2 separate regions of the Homo sapiens genome follow, and region 2 is linked to region 1. A link means that fine-mapping ties the variant in region 1 to the expression of a gene that starts in the linked region. Tissue or cell type: tibial nerve. Region 1 holds a variant in brackets; the other region holds the start of a gene. All regions are shown on one strand. Distances are between the middles of the regions.

Region 1 (5,390 bases):
TTATAAATTTCTGCCTTTCAGTATAGGCTTGAGCCCAGGAGTTTGAGACTAGCCTGGGAAACATGGCAAAACCCTATCTCTACAAAAAATACAAAACTTAGCTGGATGTGGTGGCACACACCTGTAGTCCCAGCTACTCAAGAGGCTGAGACAGGAGGATCCCTTGAGCCAAGGAGGTGGAGGTTGCACTGAGCCAAGATTGTGTCACTGCACCAAAAAAAGAAAAACAAAAACAAAAAGAATCAGCTTTAGCATCACCCATGTTTCACCTCTGAAAACATTCCATGCAAGTATTTGAACAAAGGATCTATGATAGTTAATTTTAGGTGTCAATTCGGAGGGTGTATTTGGATGAGATAAACATTTATTTATTTATTTATTTTTATATTTATTTTTTCAATTTGAACTATTATTTTAGATACACAGGGTACACATGCAGGTTTGTTATATAGGTATATTGCACCCAGATGGTGCATATAGTAAAATAGGTAGTTTTTCAACCCACATCTCCCTCCTTCCTTCATCCCACTGGTAGTTAGGAGTGTCTATTGTTCCCATGTTTATGTCCATAAATGTTCAATGTTTAACTCTCATTTATAAATAAAAACATGTACTGTTTAGTTTTCTTTTCCTGTGTTAATTCTCTTAGGATTATGGCCTCCAGCTCTATTCATTTAATGCAAAGGACATGATTTCATTCTTTTTAAGGCTGAATAGTATTCCATGGTATATATGTACCACATTTTCTTTATCCAGTACACCCATTGATGGGCACTTAGTTTAATTCCACGTCTTTGCTACCACAAATAGGGCAGTGATAAACATATGAGTGTATGTATCTTATTGGTATAATGATTTAGTTTTCTTTGGGTTTATAGCCAGTAATGGGATTGCTAAGTCGAATGGTAGTTCTAGTTTAAGTTCTTTGAGAAATCTTCACACTGCTTTCCCAATGGCTGAACTAACTTATATTTAAACCAACAGTGTATGAGCATGCCATTTTCTCCCCAGCCTCACCAGCATCTGTTGTCTTTTTACTTTTAGTAATAGTCATTCTGACTGGTGTGAGATGGTAGAGATTAACATTTAAATTGGTGATCTTTGAGTAAGCAGACTGGCCTCCATAATTTGGATGGGCCTCATCCAATCAGCTGAAGGCTTAAATAGAACACAAAGACCAGCCTCTCACACTGCCTTCAGGCTTCATCTGCACATCAGCTTTCCTGGATTTCTGCTTGCAAGTTTTCAGATGAAACTGAAACATCAGATCTTCTGGGTCTCAAGCCTGATGGTTCAGGTCACACTTCAGATTTTGGACTTTCCAGCCTCCATAATTATGTGATCTAGTTTCTTATAATGAATCTCTTTATATATATATAGTGTTCTGTTCCTCAGGAGAACACTAATATAGGACCTGATATATATTTTTCTAGAAAATAAACACAAATATTAAAATACGTAACTTTATTACTATAACTGCATTGCTTTTACAATACATTTCCATTCTGTCAAACATAAAAAAACAAAAAACAAAAAACCTTGCCAGTTTGGATTAATCCCATTTATTTGTAAATTTCTGTAGCCAACTCAAGATTTTTCTATAACTCTTTACACTCTAGACAGATTCTAAGTCCCAGGGGCTTTTCACAGTGAAAGAGTGATAGCACAGGAGAGACAACAATGACTCGGACATTTTCCTGAACATCGTCTATTTATTTATCCAAATTTACCATTCAACTATCTTTTGTTAAGATCCATATTTTAAGAAATTTCTTCTCTTGTAATTTGCTTTCTCATTTCTGTGGGATGTATTTTCCGGTAGCTTCCTAAAAACTGAAGCATTAGAAAAAAATATTTGAGAAAACCGGCTAGCCATATGTAGAAAGCTGAAACTGGATCCCTTCCTTACACCTTATACAAAACTTAATTCAAGATGGATTAAAGACTTAAACATTAGACCTAAAACCATAAAAACCCTAGAAGAAAACCTAGGCATTACCATTCAGGACATAGGCATGGGCAAGGACTTCATGTCTAAAACACCAAAAGCAATGGCAACAAAAGCCAAAATTGACAAATGGGATCTAATTAAACTCAAGAGCTTCTGCACAGCAAAAGAAACTACCATCAGAGTGAACAGGCAACCTACAAAATGGGAGAAAATTTTCACAACCTACTTATCTGACAAAGGGCTAATATCCAGAATCTACAATGAACTCAAACA[A/G]ATTTACAAGAAAAAAACAACCCCATCAAAAAGTGGGCGAAGGACATGAACAGACACTTCTCAAAAGAAGACATTTATGCAGCCAAAAAACACATGAAAAAATGCTCACCATCACTGGCCATCAGAGAAATGCAAATCAAAACCACAATGAGATACCATCTCACACCAGTTAGAATGGCAATCATTAAAAAGTCAGGAAACAACAGGTGCTGGAGAGGATGTGGAGAAATAGGAACACTTTTATACTGTTGGTGGGATTGTAAACTAGTTCAACCATTGTGGAAGTCAGTGTGGCGATTCCTCAGGGATCTAGAACTAGAAATACCATTTGACCCAGCCATCCCATTACTGGGTATATACCCAAAGGACTATAAATCATGCTGCTATAAAAACACATGCACACGTATGTTTATTGCGGCACTATTCACAATAGCAAAGACTTGGAACCAATCCACATGTCCAACAATGATAGACTGGATTAAGAAAATGTGGCACATATACACCATGGAATACTATGCAGCCATAAAAAATGGTGAGTTCATGTCCTTTGTAGGGACATGGATGAAATTGGAAATCATCATTCTCAGTAAACTATCTCAAGAACAAAAAACCAAACACCGCATGTTCTCACTCATAGGTGGGAATTGAACAATGAGAACACATGGACACAGGAAGGGGAACATCGCACTCTGGGGACTGTTCTGGGGTGGGGGAGGGGGGAGGGATAGCATTAGGAGATATACCTAATGCTAAATGACGAGTTAATGAGTGCAGCACACCAGCATGGCACATGTATACATATGTAACTAACCTGCACGTTGTGCACATGAACCCTAAAACTTAAAAGTATAATAATAATAAAAAAAAATATTTGAAACTTTGCAAATTTTTCTACTTTTGCATTTCATGCTAGTTTGGGCATTAAATCACATGTTGAAAGTAATTTACCTCAAGTAAATGTAAATTTCAAAAATAAAATATTTTTCACTTATCAAAATGGAAAAATTTTTAAACTGTGGATATTACTATGGTAGTAATTAGTATACTATAATGGAAATTATAACGTTTCTAAAAAATTATTTTACTACAGTATTTACAGTCATTTTACTTCATTTTGTTTCTTTAAGAAAATATTACAAATGAAAAACCTGAGAATGTTGGCAAAGATGTTTTGTATAAAATATTTTTAATTTAATCTACATAATTTCCAAATTATTTCCAGCCCAAATCTCTCTTTAACATATAAACTGTAACATTTAGAATATTAACTTTACCTCTAATTTTTTTCAAGCTCTCATCCTATATACATTTTAAGCCAACAGTTACCTCCTTCATAGATATATACTAAAGACTAATGAGGTACATTTTAAAAGTTATCTTTTCATTATAATTTTGCCACATTTTGGGCAGTTGGACTTGTCTCTAGAGAAGCTATAGCTATTAGCTTTGTAAAGTAGAAATAATATCCTATTTAGAAAAAGGAAGGATTTTGTGCATTTGGGAATTTTTTTTTTACTAATTAATGACTGACCATGTCACTTAGATTTGGTAAAAACGTACCATCTTTATTTTTCTGAGAAAGAATGGAACACACAGTTGAAAAATAATGTGATTAATATAAACTTGCATAAGTGTTTATTCAGTACATAACTATTCCCCAAAGCTCACAAATAGCGTTACCACATATAAATACAGTATAAAGTGGGAAAAACCACTCACTGAATAAGCAGCAACATGGATAAAGAAAACAGGCATTCTAAATCCTAAGTGATGACTTGTTAGCTGTATTACCATATCTAAGTCACTTGACAGCTCTGCTTCTTGCCTCTGAAATGGAAATTACAAATTTTCATCAGACTAAAGGCAGCTGATTATACTTAATGCTCTTTTCAGGCCTCAGGTAATTCTGGAAGGCATTATTCTCATATTAAGGTGATTCAATCTATCAAAGTGAAGTGATCTGGATGTTTGTGATCTCTCAAAATTTGTGTATTATATACAAACCCCCAAGGTAGTAGAAGGTAGGGCCTTTGGGAGATCATTAGGTCATGAGAGCTGAGCCTCATGAATGGAACTAGTGCCTTTATAAAAGAGAACTAAAGGAGCTCATTCCCAATTTCCAACATGTGAAGACAGGGGCAAAAAGATCACTGCCCAAGAACCAGTAAGCAGGCACTCACCAGATACCTAATGTACTGCATCTTCATCTTGGACTTGTCAACCTCTTGCAATGTGAGAAGTAAGTTGTTTATAAACTACCCAGTTTATAGTGATTTGTTATAGCAACCAAAAACTAAGTGTTATGGTTTTTCAGATTTGTGTCACATTGTTTGAGCTCCACTTACTTTCACTAGTGATACAGAGAACATTCCTTGGATTACAAATCCAGTCATTCAGCAATGGTTAGTTACACAATGAACTTCTGTGTGTAAGTTTTTAGGAAAGAGACATGCTCACATACATTTCTTATTCTCCCTTTTTATTCACTCTGCAATTATTATATTCATTTTTCATGAGAAACATAGCATAGTTTCGTAACTGTTAAATATGCCATTATATATTTTTAAAATTTAAAAATGTTCTATTTCTTTAAATTTTTTTTGTTTAATAACTACCCCACATGCAGAAACACATATTCAAATGCTTTTCCTTCCCTCAATAGAGTAATTTAATGTGTGTATATGTATTTATTTTATAATGAAAAGAGGCACTGATTAATAGAGTGAAGTTATTAATGCAATTTATGGCCTTCATTCTTAAAACACAAAGTATTATTTGCCAAAATTATTGTTTAATGTTAATGTCCCTCCATGATTCATTTTTCTAGACAGGGAAATGAGATAAAATCATTGCAGTATTTATAATAGGAAACAAACTTTCATTCCCAACGAACAAATACAGCATGATACAAAAATGGTTGTAGGAAGAGTAAAAGTGATCTAATCAATTATTAAATAAAGGAATGTGACTTCCAGTACAATGATTAGATAATTTTGGATGGTTCAAAGTTATGGAATCATATTGTATTTCCAACTGATGATAAGATGTGTGTATTAATCTGCTTGGACTGCCATAAAAAATGCCGCAGACTTGGGTGGCTTAAGCAAAAGAAATTTATTTTCCCACTCTTCTGAAGCCTGGATGTCCAAGATCAAGGTGCTGGCAG
Region 2 (5,390 bases), 34 kb after region 1:
TTTTGTATTTCTAGTGGAGACGGGGGATTTCACTGTGTTAGCCAGGATGGTCTTGATCTCCTGACCTCGTGATCTGCCCACCTCGGCCTTCCAAAGTGCTGGGATTATAGGTGTGAGCCACTGCATCCAGCCTAGTTAGTCTTCATTTTTGAAAGCTGTTTGCTGGAAACAGAAATCAAGGTTGACTTTTTTTTATTCTTACAGTACTTGAAAGATGTTACTCTACTGTCTTGCTTGCATTGTTCCAAGAAGAAATTTCCCGTAATCCTTATCTTTGTTTCTATGTAACATGTGCCCCAACACCCCTTATTACTTTAGAATTTTTTATCAATGGTTTTGAGTTATGCAATTATGGTATAACTTGATGTCATTTTCTTAATATTTCTTGTGTTTGAGATTTGTGAAGCTTCTTGAATATATGAATTTATATTTTTCATCACATTTCAAATTTTTTGGTCTTTATTACTTGTTTTCTTGTCCTCTCCCCTTGCCTCTCTGAGACTCCACTTTCAAGTATATTATTAGGCTGTTAGAAGTTGTCTCACAGCTCACCATTGATTTGTTCATGTTACTTTATTTTCATTTTTTAATGTTGTGATTGATTTTGGGTAGTTTCTCTAGAGCTGTGTTTCACTTTCATTCTGCAATGTGTAACATACTATATTAATACCATCTAATTCCATCTATCACATTGTAGTGTTCACCTCTACAAGTTTGATTTAGGTCTTTATTACAAGCTTTGTGTCTTTGATTAACTTTTTTAACAGCTTTTATGACAGCAGTAAAGTGTAAATTTAGCGGTTTTCTGTATAGAATTGTACAACCTTCACCATAACCGAAGTGTAGAACATTTTATTTATCCCTTTAAAAGAAACACTATATCCATTTGCAGTCCCTCCCCATACTCTCTCAACCTCTCATTCCCACCAATCCCCAGCCCTGGACAAGCACTATATAAATTTACTTTCTGTTGCTATAGATTTGTCAAATCTAGACATTTCACATAAATGAAATAATATATTATGTGGTCTTTTGTAATTAGCTTCTTTCACTTAGTATATTTTCAAGGTTCATATTTTAGCATGTAGTAACCATTATTTAGCATGTAATAAAGTTCTCTTTACTACTGATTAATACTTCATTGAATGAAAGTATGCATTTTCACTCACCAGCTAATGGGCCTTTGGGTTGTTTTTACCTTTCAGCTTTTGTGAATAATGCTGCTATAGAGGTTTGTGTACTTTTGTGTCCCCATGTTTTTATTTGTCTTGGATATATAACTAGGAATGAAATTGTGACTCATATGGTAACCCTACGTTCAAAGCCTATGCACCAGTTTACATTTCCATCAACATGAGAATTCCACTTTCTTTACATCCTTAGCACCACTTACCTTTTTCATTATAGTTCTGATATCTTTTTGAAGATATGGGATATAGTTACAATAACTGTTTTAATGTCCTTGCCTGTTGATTCTAACATTACTTCAGTTCTGATCAGCAATTGATTTTTCTCCTCATTATGTGTTTTTTTTTTTCTTTTTGCAAGCTTGGTAATTTTTCTTTGTATGACATATGTAAATTGCACCTTTGGTGAACATTTTTCTATTTCTATAAATACTGCTGAAGTTTGGTCTTGTCATCTGTCATGGTTTGTTAAGTTTGATCCATTTGGGTCTTACTTTTAAGAGTTAGATGGCACTACAGCACTGATCAGCTAGGACTAATTACTGCCTACTAAATAATTAGTAAACAACTATCAAATCAAGACTTTTTTGTGTGTACTCTGTCCAGTGTCCTACGGACTATGAAGTTTTCCAGCCTGGTTAGTGGAAATAGAGACTATTTCTGACCCTCTGTAATGTCCATATATATATATTTATATATATATATATATGTATTTTTTTTTTTTTGTGAGACGGAGTCTCGCACTGTCACCAGGGCTGTAGTGCTGTGGCGCAATTTCGGCTAACTGCAACCTCAGCCTCCCTGGTTCAAGCAATTCTCCTGCCTCAGCCTCCCGAATAGCTGGGATTACAAGCGCCCACCACCACGCCCAACTAATTTTTTTTGTACTTTTAGTAGAGACGGGGGTTTCACCATGTTGGCCAGGCTGGTCTCAAACTCCTGACCTCGTAATTCACCTGCCTCAGACTCACAAAGTGCTGGGATTACAGACGTGAGCCACCGCGACCGGCCATGTCCTGGTATCTTTAAAAATCTTTTAGCTAGTTTCTTGAGACACATACTGCTCAGTACTCAGCTGAATGAATACCAAGTTCTCTCTCAGCAGTTATCTTTCTCCTGTACTCTGCAAAGAACATTACCTACCTTGGTCTCCCCAGAATATCTGTTCTATTTTGCCAACGCAGGCAATCGGCTGGGCTCTGCTTGAGTTCACTCTCCTGCATCGCATCTATAAAATACTAATATCTTTGAAAGCAGCTCGCTTTTTGAGCGCAGATCATTTGCTTCCTGTATCTCCCGGATCACTATTCTTTACTGATTCCCAGCGTCTTAGAAACAGCCCCACTGTTTTTCGGGGTTTTGTTTTTTTTTTTCTACAGCAGTAGTGAATATTTTAAATAAAGTGTCAATGCTGTAAGTTTCCCTTAAAACGCAAACTCAAGGAAATGCTTTCCCTTTTTCGAGTAGAGAAAGAACTTCCACAGGCGCGCGGTCGAGCTCAAGCCCACTTATAGTCTCTGGCACCGCGTAAGGACTAGCGCGCAGGCGCAGAGCCCGTGCGCGCCTAGCCATAACCGCGCTTGCGCCAAGCAGCGAGGCCCGCCAACGAGCGAATCCGCGCCTGCCAATTAGAGCGCACAATGGTCCTTGATGCCCGCCCACTAACCTCTGCAGCCAATCGCCTGCCCCGGCGCGAAGTCGACTGTGACTTCAAAGTAATCTTAGGGATTGTGGGAAGGCAGCTGAACTCGGCGCCTGGAAAGATGGAGGCAGCGGAGACAGAGGCGGAAGCTGCAGCCCTAGAGTAAGTGTTTGCGGCTAAGTGGCAGCTGGGGCCGGGCCTGGGAGGACCTTGTGGGCCCCTATGTGTAATGATTGGTGCCCTCGACCCTGTACAGCTGTTGAGGTTCGACCCTGCCGTGAAGTGATCCTCACCGCAGTCCCGTCTTAGGTTCCTGAGGTGTCTGTTGCCTGCTCCAGGAGTACAGCCTTTGGGGGACCGTTCGCCGCTCCCCACATCCACATAATCCACAGGATGTGCTCTAGGAGACGGTTTCACTTCTGTCTTCTTGTCCCAACACGACACATTCCCAGTCACTTCTCATCCCCATCCCTGCCCCTTCGTAGATTGCTCCAGTCCCTAATAATGAAAAACCCTAGAGTAGACCGAGGCATCCAGCCCTCTGCCCTGAGTCCTTTCTCAGCTATTCCAAGACTCTGCCCCAAGGCTGGTGCTCAGCGCCAGGAGGGATCCCAAGGCCCAGCATTCTTCCCCTTCCTTGCATATCTCCCTGGCTTCCTTCACATCTTGACTCAAATGATTTCTCTTCAGTGAGACACTCCCTATTTAAAATTTCAGCTCTTTTCTCAAACTCCTTATCCACTAGCCCTGCTGATTTTCCTTTTGGCACGTATTACCACCGTGTGCCCTCCATGCACGCCATTCCTGGTTGCAGGCTGTGGACCCTTCAGGCCCTTGTGTAAACTCTGGTCAAGGCAAGACTCTCAATACTATATATACTGATATACACATCCACATTTGTTTGTGTACACACACGAACTGTAGAACTAGCACCACAAGAAACTGCAATTTCCTGTGTTTCCTTGCCCCTCCAGGGTCCTGGCTGAGGTGGCAGGCATCTTGGAACCTGTAGGCCTGCAGGAGGAGGCAGAACTGCCAGCCAAGATCCTGGTTGAGTTTGTGGTGGTATGTACAAGATGAGAGCGAGCCTTTCAGAAGCCAGGGTCTGGTCCTGGCTCCTCTTACTGAGATACAGGGCAGCACTGGCAGAGAGCAGACTTAAGGAAACCTGTAAGGAGGTAAGGATGTTCCCTGTCTCTGCCCTCCCTCTGAGCAGGACTCTCAGAAGAAAGACAAGCTGCTCTGCAGCCAGCTTCAGGTAGCGGATTTCCTGCAGAACATCCTGGCTCAGGAGGACACTGCTAAGGGTCTCGACCCCTTGGCTTCTGAAGACACGAGCCGTGAGTAGGCAGGGGATTGTAGTAGCAGCTGACCTGAGTGGGGAAGGAAGGAGGATTTCAGTTAGGTCTCCCATTTGGCTGATGGGAAGGAGGCCCAGTGTTGCAGGGAGGCAGGCTAGCAGGCCACCCTCACTCATGTACTCATTCCTGGTGGCTCATCTCAGGACAGAAGGCAATTGCAGCTAAGGAACAATGGAAAGAGCTGAAGGCCACCTACAGGGAGCACGTAGAGGCCATCAAAATTGGCCTCACCAAGGCCCTGACTCAGATGGAGGAAGCCCAGAGGAAACGGACACAACTCCGGGAAGCCTTTGAGCAGCTCCAGGCCAAGGTACACCCAGGGGTCTTGAGTACAGGGAGGGAAGGGCAGTTAGAAAGGAAGAGGGAAAGAGTGAGCAAGCTGAGTTGTGCCAGCTTGCAATCTCCCAAAATTCTAGCCAGAAAAAATAGACTTCTCTTGGTCTTTCTCCCTTGCTTATCTGTAGAAACAAATGGCCATGGAGAAACGCAGAGCAGTCCAGAACCAGTGGCAGCTACAACAGGTAGGTTCGTCCCCCTAGGAGAATATCCCTTCCCACCACCATGCCATTGTATCGGCTGTGTCCCCTGTCTAGAAAACCGTTTTGCTTCCTCCTTTGAGGCACTATAATATAAATACCAACATGGGCTTGAATCTCAGTGTCACCACTTACCACTGCATGATCTTGGGCAGGTCACCTAACTTTCTGTTTCTTTATTTAAAATGAAGGCAATAATACCACCTACTCTAGAGAGTTATTAAGATGATTAAATGATCATTACAGCAAGGACTTTAAAATAGTACCTGGCACATAGCAAGTTAAATAAGTGTTATCACCTTTGTGCCCCTTCCCCGCAAGAATGCCTCACCCTAGAACAGCTCATTCTGATCTTTCCTTTTCTCTAGGCCCCTACTCCACCCTGAAGTGAATAGAGTCCCTCTTTTCATCATTGAGCCTGAGCCCTGAGCTGGGTGTAGGCTGGAGGGGTTGGAGGGAGTTTCTAAGACTTCAACATCTGATGCATAATGTCTGCATGCTCACTCCTGGCAGGAGAAGCATCTGCAGCATCTGGCGGAGGTTTCTGCAGAGGTGAGGGAGCGTAAGACAGGGACTCAGCAGGAGCTTGACAGGGTGTTTCAGAAACTTGGAAACCTGAAGCAGCAGGCAGAACAGGAGCGGGACAAGCTGCAGAGGTAAGTTC

Direction of the effects. Positions count from the first base shown, and alleles are read on the strand shown. Sizes are in standard deviations (SD) of each study's normalised expression.
In carriers of allele A in region 1, the expression in tibial nerve of the gene that starts at base 2,928 in region 2 tends to be higher than with G alone (large effect, 0.92 SD a copy in GTEx).

The links. PIP is the estimated chance that this variant, and not a neighbour inherited with it, causes the effect.
Region 2: it holds the start of ZWINT, and the variant in region 1 is fine-mapped to the expression of ZWINT in tibial nerve (GTEx, PIP above 0.99). The same link has a PIP of 0.9 or more in breast and cerebellar hemisphere.

The regions. Positions count from the first base shown.
Region 1 is chr10:56,392,440-56,397,829 of GRCh38, reverse strand. No RefSeq gene overlaps it. Among named protein-coding and RNA genes, the nearest start is that of ZWINT, 34 kb to the right of the region's middle. The variant A/G (reference allele first, on the strand shown) is at 2,225.
Region 2 is chr10:56,358,797-56,364,186 of GRCh38, reverse strand. It overlaps ZWINT (ZW10 interacting kinetochore protein), which reads left to right and starts at 2,928. Exons shown (of 9, transcript NM_007057.4): 1 at 2,928-2,991; 2 at 3,804-3,894; 3 at 4,046-4,169; 4 at 4,334-4,500; 5 at 4,655-4,711; 6 at 5,240-5,382. The coding sequence starts at 2,951. It overlaps LOC124902546 (a long non-coding RNA gene), which reads right to left and starts at 2,728. Exons shown (of 2, transcript XR_007062372.1): 1 at 2,331-2,728; 2 at 1-162. RefSeq lists a silencer at 2,661-2,870 and enhancers at 2,961-3,130, 2,479-3,218, 3,958-4,698, 3,844-5,043.